Regions from separate parts of the Homo sapiens genome. Here region 2 is linked to region 1. Evidence: fine-mapped expression QTL. A gene starts in region 1. The other region holds a variant in brackets. All regions are shown on one strand. Distances are between the middles of the regions.

Region 1 (4,396 bases):
GTGTCACAATACTTAGTCCATATCCTCCTGCCGCCTTTCAAGTTTCTTCTCTCTTTTACCCACTCCTTCTCTGAGTGCCAAAACTCCAATTTTAGTACTTCTATGCAAACCAATTTCACCACCCAGGTGAATTAGCTTGCACTCCCCAAATTTTGTTACTGGACTCTTTCCTTTGTAAGGGATAAGAATTTAGCCCAAGCCAGCTTAGGGCAAAAGGAAACTTTTGGCTGGGAGTGGTGGCTCACACCTGGAATCCCAGCACTTTGGGAGGCCAAGGCGGGCGGATCACAAGGTCAAGAGATTGAGACCATCCTGGCCAACATGGTAAAACCCCATCTCTACTAAAAATACAAAAATTAGCCGGGCGTGGTGGCGCACATTGGTAGTCCCGGCTACTTGGGAGGCTGAGGCAGGAGAATCGCTTGAACCTGGGAGGTGGAGGTTGCAGTGAACCGAGATGGTGCCACTGCACTCCAGCCTGGCAACAGAGTGAGACTCTGTCTTAAAAAAAAAAAAAAAAAAAAATTTGGCTCACAGAATCAAAGGACAGACTTAATCAAACTGCAGGAAGAGAGGGATTTAACTGGAACCAGGGAATTAACCCTGCTTCTCTCATTGCCTACTGGCAACAAGTCCCAATTCTTATCTTTTAGCGTTCACGCACTGGAAAGATGCAGTCTTAAATTTCTTATGGTTCAAAGCTCAAAAATGCTGGTAAGGCTGGGTGCAGTGGCTCACACCTGTAATCCCAGCACTCTGGAAGGCCGAGGTGGGCAGATCACCTGAGGTTAGGAGTTCGAGACCAGCCTGGCCAACATGGTGAAACCCTGTCTCAACTAAAAACACAAAAATCAGCGGGGTGTCATGGCAGGCGCCTCTAATCCCAGCTACTCGGGAGGCTGAGGCAGGAGAATCGCTTGAACCCGGGAGGTGGAGGTTGCAGTGAGCCTGGATCTTGCCACTGCACTCCAGCCTGGATGACTGAGACTCCGTCTGAAAAAACAAAAACAAAACAATAAACCCTCCCAACCCGCCAAAATGCTGGTTAAGGATTCTAAATGGCTCAACTTGGCCAGCTGTCTATCCCTGAACTGCCTATGGTGTACATGTTCCTATAACAGCACCTCCCAGGGAAACCAGAGGGGCTGCTTCCAGGTAAAAGGAGGAATTTCACCATAGACATAATACTTTGGAATAGTTTTGGCTATCCTTAAGTAAAACACGGGATGACTATTTCTCTAATTTCCACACTAGTAGTTTAAACAAAGTAGTCATCAGACCACAGAGGAGGGGGCAATAAATACTGCCTGTGAGGTAACTCGGCGAAATACTTTCACAGAGGCCTCATGAGGTGAGCATTTAGCATCGTGTGTGATGTGTGTCAAACCAAGAGGGGATTCAGGGAGACTTCCAGGCTTGAGCAAACGGACAAATATACCTCCTCTTCCAGACCTCTCCTTTCATATGGAAAAAATTCGTTTGGGACCACCAGAAAACAAAAGATAAAAGTATCGTGTTAGAACAAGGATGGATTAAAAATGACCTTTGCTTGAACTGAAACAGAAGCTATGTGCATAAGTGACTTAACTCCTCTGTAACTTGGCTTTCTTATCATTTACACGAGGGTGCTAACAGTACCCTCACAAGGTTCAAGTGAAGATTACATAGGACAATCCCTTAGTCAATGTCTTGGTACACTGTAAAGGCTCAGTAAATGCTGGAAAATCATATTAGCAACTATTTTATACCCGTAATTGTAGCTGGAAGATTGTATTGGATGCTAAATACCGGCTAGATTCCATTCGGTAACTATCATAATTATTTATTTGCATAACAATCAAATTATTGGTGCAAAGCAGCCATTATTACTGTAAAATGCTTTAAAATGCTCCTTTTGATAGTCCAGGTACGTACTGCAGCACAAAACTAGGAGAAACCAGGAAATGGAAGTAACGAGTAAGTTTGGATGCTTCGATTCTACCCTAGATTGAGACGGGTGAGCATAGAGGCAAAAAAAGACATTTTCTTCCAAACAAGAGGTGACCAAACGGGCAAGGGAGACCTCCTCCCGGGCATGCAGAGCGCAGCGATTCTGTGCCCAGGGAGCCGGAGGGCTGGGGCTGGGAGATCCCGGCGGAGCCCCGGCAGAGCAGTCGCCCGTGAGCCCCCGCAACTCAGACGCGCTCGGCCTCGCGCTCCGGGGCTGGGACCACCGAGGGCGAGCTGCAGCCTTCGCCACCCGGTCCGCCGCCGGACTCCGCCTCCCACAAACAGCCCGGCAAGGCCCTTTTCCGCCGCTCCCTCATCCAGCGAAGCCTCCTTCCCAGCTTCCCCGGCGGCGGCGCCGTGACGTCACTTCCGTTCTCCAGCGCGCACGTGGGAGGAAGTGCTGGTGCCCTCTGCCGCTGCTCCCGTCTCTTTGGTTACGCTCGTCAGCCGGTCGGCCGCCGCCTCCAGCCGTGTGCCGCTATGGGAGTCCCGGCGTTCTTCCGCTGGCTCAGCCGCAAGTACCCGTCCATCATAGTCAACTGCGTGGAAGAGAAGGTGAGGAGGCGCCAGGCGGCCGCCACACTCGAGCCCGGGCCCCCGGCACGTCTAGGCCGCGGCCCATGGGCTCCGCCGCCTGCCCCCGGGGAGCCTTGCCGGAGCTCGCGCCCTGCTGCCAGCCTCGCGAGCAGTCGCAGCCCCACACGCGATGGGACGCGGGCTGTGGGATTCAGCACCCCGGGGGCGAGGAATTCAGGACCCTCGGCGGGGCAAGGGCCTATAGGGTTCCGAACTCGCAGGAGGGTCGCTCCTCCCCTACTCGCTTTTTCCCGGCACCGGAAGGCCCCGCCCACTGCTTTGTTTCCTCTCCAGACCGCGCATTTTGGGTCTCGGAAGAGGTTCAGAGGCTGTTGTTGAGCAATGCATGCCAGGTCAGCTGAGCTAGCGGGTTATGGATGCACGGATTCGGAGGCCAGCTTTTTGACAACCTTGTAAAGGAATCCCTGGCGGCGACCTTTTCGTTGTTTACCAATTGTGCCGGAAAGGTTTTCTCCTAGTGTTCAGGACCATTTGTTGTTCTGGTTAGATTGGACGCTGAAAGCAGTATGTCAGGTCCAGGATGAGCGCTATAGAATTCTGAGAAGTTACCCTTCTCTGTGTGCCCTGACTACTGAACGGGGTGGGTGCTTGTTGAAAATTTCAAGATTACTGGATGTACTTGAGCAGTACAATTTTTGTTGTTAGTTAATACGTAAGTAGATTTTTGGCCATTATTGAGTTTTGTTTTTATTGTTTTCGTCATTCCATGCGGATTCGATTTTGTGCTCTTAATTAGAATTTCTGGATTGGAAACGTTCAGAGGCACATCACGCGTACCTCACTCCTTAGTTTTTGAAGGCAGTGCTTGCCTGTCACTGTGAACTTATTTCTGCTTTTTTTTTTTTTTTTAACTTTCTTGGCTTCTATCCAAGGAGGAACCAAAAGCCTTGTCTTAGTGACATTCCCACTATTTCTTGTTTTTTTCAAAAAGCAACTGCTAAATTGAATACTTGTTTCCTTTGTAAAATTTTAATCGAACTTTATTGAACTTTACTTGCACGTGGGTTAAACAAAAAGCAACAGTTCTTGCTCTACCCCTTCTCATCCCATTTCTCCACCTTTAACTGTTTTGGTTCTGTCTCTAAGTATCATACTTATACGTTATCACTTTTAGATCTGTTGAATTCTAGCTGGAATAGGAGAGGATTTAGTCACCTATTCAGCCCTCCCTCTATACTCTTAATGGAGTAAATCACTAGATATATATTTTTATTGGTAAGCTTTATAACTAAGTAATTTGCCTTTTTCATTCCATCGCCTGTGTAACGTATCCCTTGACTCAATGCTTTCTAAGGTCGATCTTAGCTTTTCTTCCCTTTCACCTCAAGTTTGTCAGCTGTACTTTTGCGTTGTGGGCATCCAAAATTAAATGATCAGGGCTTTGACTATACAGATTTAAAATGCTGAAAAATCAGATAGGATAGTTGACTATTGACACTGTGTAGATTCAGGTTATGTACTGTGATTTTGTTTTTTGTGCTGCTTTTGTCTTTTTCCCTGGGGCTGTCTTTCTTTTTCCACTTTACATCTTGCCGCGCCCGGACTCTATTTTACCAGGTAGTCTATCAAGAGTCATCTTTCTTCTTGAATAGTCCTTCTTGGGGTCTTATTTATTTTTGTTGCTGTCACACCTGGCTATTCTGTAGGCTTGCTGGAAAGCTGCATCTGGGATTTTATTATTATTATTGCTATCATATCTTTCTTCAGTGGGAGGTACTGTTTTCTGGATCATCATCTTACTTCATTTGTTTATTTATTTAGAGACGGAGTCTCGCTATGTCTCTTAGGCTGGAGTACGGTGGCATGATCT
Region 2 (4,396 bases), 130 kb after region 1:
TGTATAATTCAGTGTTTTCCTTATTCTAATCAATCCAAGATACATTTGTGAATATATTTCTATGTTCCAGATACTACTTATATTAACTTCAGTATATTAATTGAAGAACTGAGCCCTGAAACTTAAGTTTTGCCCAGGTCACATTTGATGGCTAGTGGCAGAGTTGATTGGTTTTATATAAATTGATCCCTTTTTTTAACAGTTACAATTTTGAAATATTTTATTTTATTTTATTTATTTTTGAGATGGAGTCTCACTCTGTTGCCTAGGCTGTAGTGCAGTGGCATTATCTCGGCTTGCTGCAACTTCTGCCTCCTAGGTTCAAGCAATTCTCCTGCCTCCCAAGTAGCTGGGATTACAGGCGTGTGCCACCACACCCATCTAATTTTTGTATTTTTAGTAGAGATGGAGTTTCACCATGTTGGCCAGGCTGGTCTTGAGCTCCTAACCTCAAGTGATCCACCTACCTTGGCCTCCCAAAGTGTTGGGATTACAGGTGTGAGCCACTGTACCTGGCCATTGAAAAATTTTAAATTAATGTATAATTTGTATACATTAAAATTCACCTTTGAAAAATATTCAGTTCAATAAATGTTGAACTGCGTAGGGTCATGTAACCACCACCATAGTCAAAATAAAGAATATTTTCATTAACCCCTCAAATTCACTCTTTTTCTAAGTGTTTTAAAGTTTTAGATTTTATTCTTAGGTCTGTGACCCATTTTGAGTCGATTTTTGTGAAAAGTGTGAAGAAGTGTTGACCTAGTTTCTTTTTTCTCTCCTTCCTTCTTTTGCAAATGAATGTCCAATTATTTGGGCGCCATTTGTTGAACTGCCTTTTTGTCTTTGCTGAAAATCAATTGACATATGTGTACACCAAAAATTTCTGAACTCTCTCTTTTATTTCATTGATGGGTATATCTATAAACCTCACAAGTTTTAAATTGATTAGTGTGGTTAAGACCTCACACTTACTGTCATCACTATTTCACCACTTACTTGAGCTGTGACATGCCAAAAAAGTACAAAGCAAAGCTATTTCTCCCTATATTTTTGACTTTTTTAAATGCCTCAGACAACTGTAACTCATTGACATTTATATCTCAGAGCTAAAATACAGAGATTACATTTGGATCAACACCTTCAGTACTTATATCCTGAAACTAATTATGTTGCCAGTATAATGAAATGAAAATGTTAACATGTTTAAGCCTGTCATGTGAAAATATTTCAGATGTCACAATGAAACCATTTATGCCATCCTTGTCATGGGTTGTCTCTGGTCCTATAATTACTTTCTGGCTTCCAGAAAATCCGTTTGAATATTTAAAATATTCAAGAATAAAACATTACTGAGAAAGCAGAGATGGTTCTTTCTCTGACCTCCTAGTAAAAGTGTCTTTGTTTTTGTCTAACTTCATCTTGCCTGCCCTGAGTTTGAATTGCGCATCAAGATTGGGGGTACCCTGACTTTTTCCTTGCCTACATCCAAAGCAAGACTTCCTTGGTTCCTTTGACAAGAGCTGTAGTCCACCAGATGATTTAAATCTAAGATACTCTTTCTTTCCAAGTCCATACTTAGTTGTAGGTAGATTTTGTCTCTATTGGCAGTGGTGGTGTCGGGAGTAGAGATAGAGCACCAACCACTAAAAACTGTGCTCCTCCCTTTATCTCCAGGATCTGGAATTCTGAATTAGTCACTCCTGGGCATAGCCATGGCTGTTGGGGGAGAGGAATGAGAGGGGAAGTTTTTCACCTTGATCCATCCTGAGAACCCTGATCTCATCTGTTCTATTCACCAGTAGCTGTCATTCTCAAAGTACCATTCGGCGGCTTTCTTCGGCTTTGGAAACTTTCATCTCTGCCCTGGCACTCTTCACAGACTGAAGCTCCTTCCCACTTTGTACCATGCACATGGCTCAGCACCAGATTCCAAAAAGCTGGAGCTGGGCTTACAGATAGGAACATTTCTGCACCTTCTGAGGGTTGCACCAGGTTG[T/C]CTTCACTACACTGTGGTGTTACCTGTTTGCTAAAGCCCTGGGCCTGTCTTCTGATTGACTGCTTGTGGAGTGTGACTCTGAAGTTACTCTGTCCCAACACTCTTGGATGACTCACAAAAGGCAAGTTATTGCTCTTTTCTTGATGTCATTTCCCTCTCTCCCTGATAAAGTGAGTAGTCCTCCTTATCACCCCTTTGCCGATGTCAGAGCACAACTCATTATGCCAGGCTTGGGGGTTTACAGAGTTCCTCAGCACTTTGCAACACTCCTCCTCCCCACTCTACCCCAGTGTTATAACAGACCTTCTTAGCTCCCTTTTCTTGAGGGCATTACAGCCAGGAATAACTAGCTGAGTGGCGCTAAATGAAATGTATTCTAAGCCTCCCATTAAGCCACCCACCCTCATTGTGCTTATGGTACCTTATTTATAGGGACTCCTGTAATTGGATAACATCTCTCCCCTTAGTTCTCTTCCTTTCCCTTCAAGCAGAAGCCAGCTGGGGTCAGAGGAGAGGCTGCTTTCACCTGCAGTCTCCATCACTCCGTCTGGCTTTCCAGATCTCAGTCTTATAGGGGGACACCTGTGCAAATGATTCCAGGGCATTTAGTCATGCCTGCCCTTGCCCTGTTTCCCAAGACACAACTGCCGGAGGCAGCCATTTAAAAATGTGGTATGTAGTCTTTTAGACTCCTTCATACATTTCCCTTTTTTACATACATGGGGTGATACTACATACTGTAGTCTTCTCTGTTTATGTACTCCTATATTGATGGCATTTTTCATGTTCTCAGCTGCATGAAATTCCATCGTATAATTCTAGCATGGTTTACTTCACCAGGTCCTTATTGACTGTTGTTCCTGTTGCTACAATTTTCAGATGTTGTGAACAACGGTCCCATGGACGTCAGTGTATATACAGCTTTGTACACCTGAACAATGATTTTCTTAGACGTGGAATTGATAGAACTTTCATTTTGATACACTCTACCCTTTAGAAAAGTAGCACCATTTGGCTGGGTGCGGTGGCTCACACCTGTAATCCCAGCACTTTGGGAGGCTGAGGCGGGCGGATCATGAGGTCAGGAGATTGAGACCATCCTGTCTAATACGGTGAAACCCCGTCTCTACTAAAAAAAATACAAAAAATAAGCTGGGCATGGTGGCGGGCGCCTGTAGTCCCAGCTACTCAGGAGGCTGAGGCAGGAGAATGGCGTGAACCCGGGACGCGGAGCTTGGAGTGAGCCGAGATGGCACCACTGCACTCCAGCCTGGGCAACAGAGCGAGACTTCATCTCAAAAGAAAAGAAAAGTAGCACCATTTATGCTCTCACCAGCTGTATATAAGGGTCACCTTTTCCCCCACACACTTGCTAGCAATGAACTTTAGCCTTCTTTTTCATCTAAAACCATACCCATACCAGTGGAAACATGGTATTTTATTGTTTCAGTTTGCATTTCTGTAATCATTCATGGGACTGAGCATCATTTAATATACTTAATAGTCATTTGGATTTTTTCTGTGAATTGTCTGTTCGTATCTTTTTTCTACTGTGGTGTTCATCTTTTCTGTGTTGCTTTGTAAGAGTTCTTTATACGGTAAAAATATTAACTCTTTGTTTTGTGTATACATTACAGATATTTCCCCCAGTTTGGTGTTTGTTTTTTAATTTTGATTCAATGTCTTTTAATACATGGACCTTAAAATTTTTATGCAACTAAATCTGTTGGAGTTTCCTTTGTGGCTTTTGGTTTTTTATTCTTTTCCTGATCAAATATTATAAAAATATTTAAATGTCTTTATTGTTCCAATGATTTTTAAAAATCTTTTACATGTGGAAGATCTGTCTTGTTATGAGGATGATAATGGTAGAATGACTTCCCATGTGAATGGTAGAAGGGTAATCTGAAGTCACCTTTTGGCAGGTCTGGAATCTTATGAACATCGCAGAAACTAGGTAGAACCTAGAGCCCAGTTTGATGACATTGGTGTGTCTACACAGAGGTTTACACAATTTCCTCAAGTGTATCATTAGTAAATGAGAGGTAGAACCTGTGATTCTCTTGTTATTGTTATTAAGTTGAGCAAACCTTTTATTTCCAGCCTTAGTCAAATCTATACCAACTTTATCATCTGTAAGCCACTAACAAGTCAGGCTAGATTTTTCTGTATAAAGGGAAAGAGTCCTGGCTAAGCAATATGTTAATTACTATTGTAGCCACTCTGAGAAACACAATGGACACCCTTTCAAAATTTGTTTCAGATGTTGAGACTGATGATGACACACACACACACACACGCACACACACACCAAGAGTGTGAAAAGGTTAATTATGTACATAATTGTGGTCTCCGGAGAGAGCAGAGCAGGCATCCCAAGTGAGTCTCAAATGGCTT

Direction of the effects. Alleles are on the strand shown, and positions count from the first base shown. SD is a standard deviation of normalised expression in the study named.
For the expression in fibroblasts of the gene that starts at base 2,402 in region 1, allele T in region 2 goes with a higher level than allele C (small effect, 0.19 SD a copy in GTEx).

Evidence for each region. PIP is the estimated chance that this variant, and not a neighbour inherited with it, causes the effect.
Region 2: its variant is the best candidate, but not a certain one, in a credible set for the expression of XRN2 in fibroblasts (GTEx, PIP 0.60).

What each region holds. Positions count from the first base shown.
Region 1 is chr20:21,300,930-21,305,325 of GRCh38, forward strand. It overlaps XRN2 (5'-3' exoribonuclease 2), which reads left to right and starts at 2,402. Exons shown (of 30, transcript NM_012255.5): 1 at 2,402-2,544. The coding sequence starts at 2,470. RefSeq lists a silencer at 2,100-2,229 and an enhancer at 2,950-2,999.
Region 2 is chr20:21,431,400-21,435,795 of GRCh38, forward strand. All of the region lies in intron 2 of LOC105372558 (a long non-coding RNA gene), which reads left to right. Among named protein-coding and RNA genes, the nearest start is that of NKX2-4, 36 kb to the left of the region's middle. RefSeq lists an enhancer at 1,992-2,286. The variant T/C (reference allele first, on the strand shown) is at 2,000.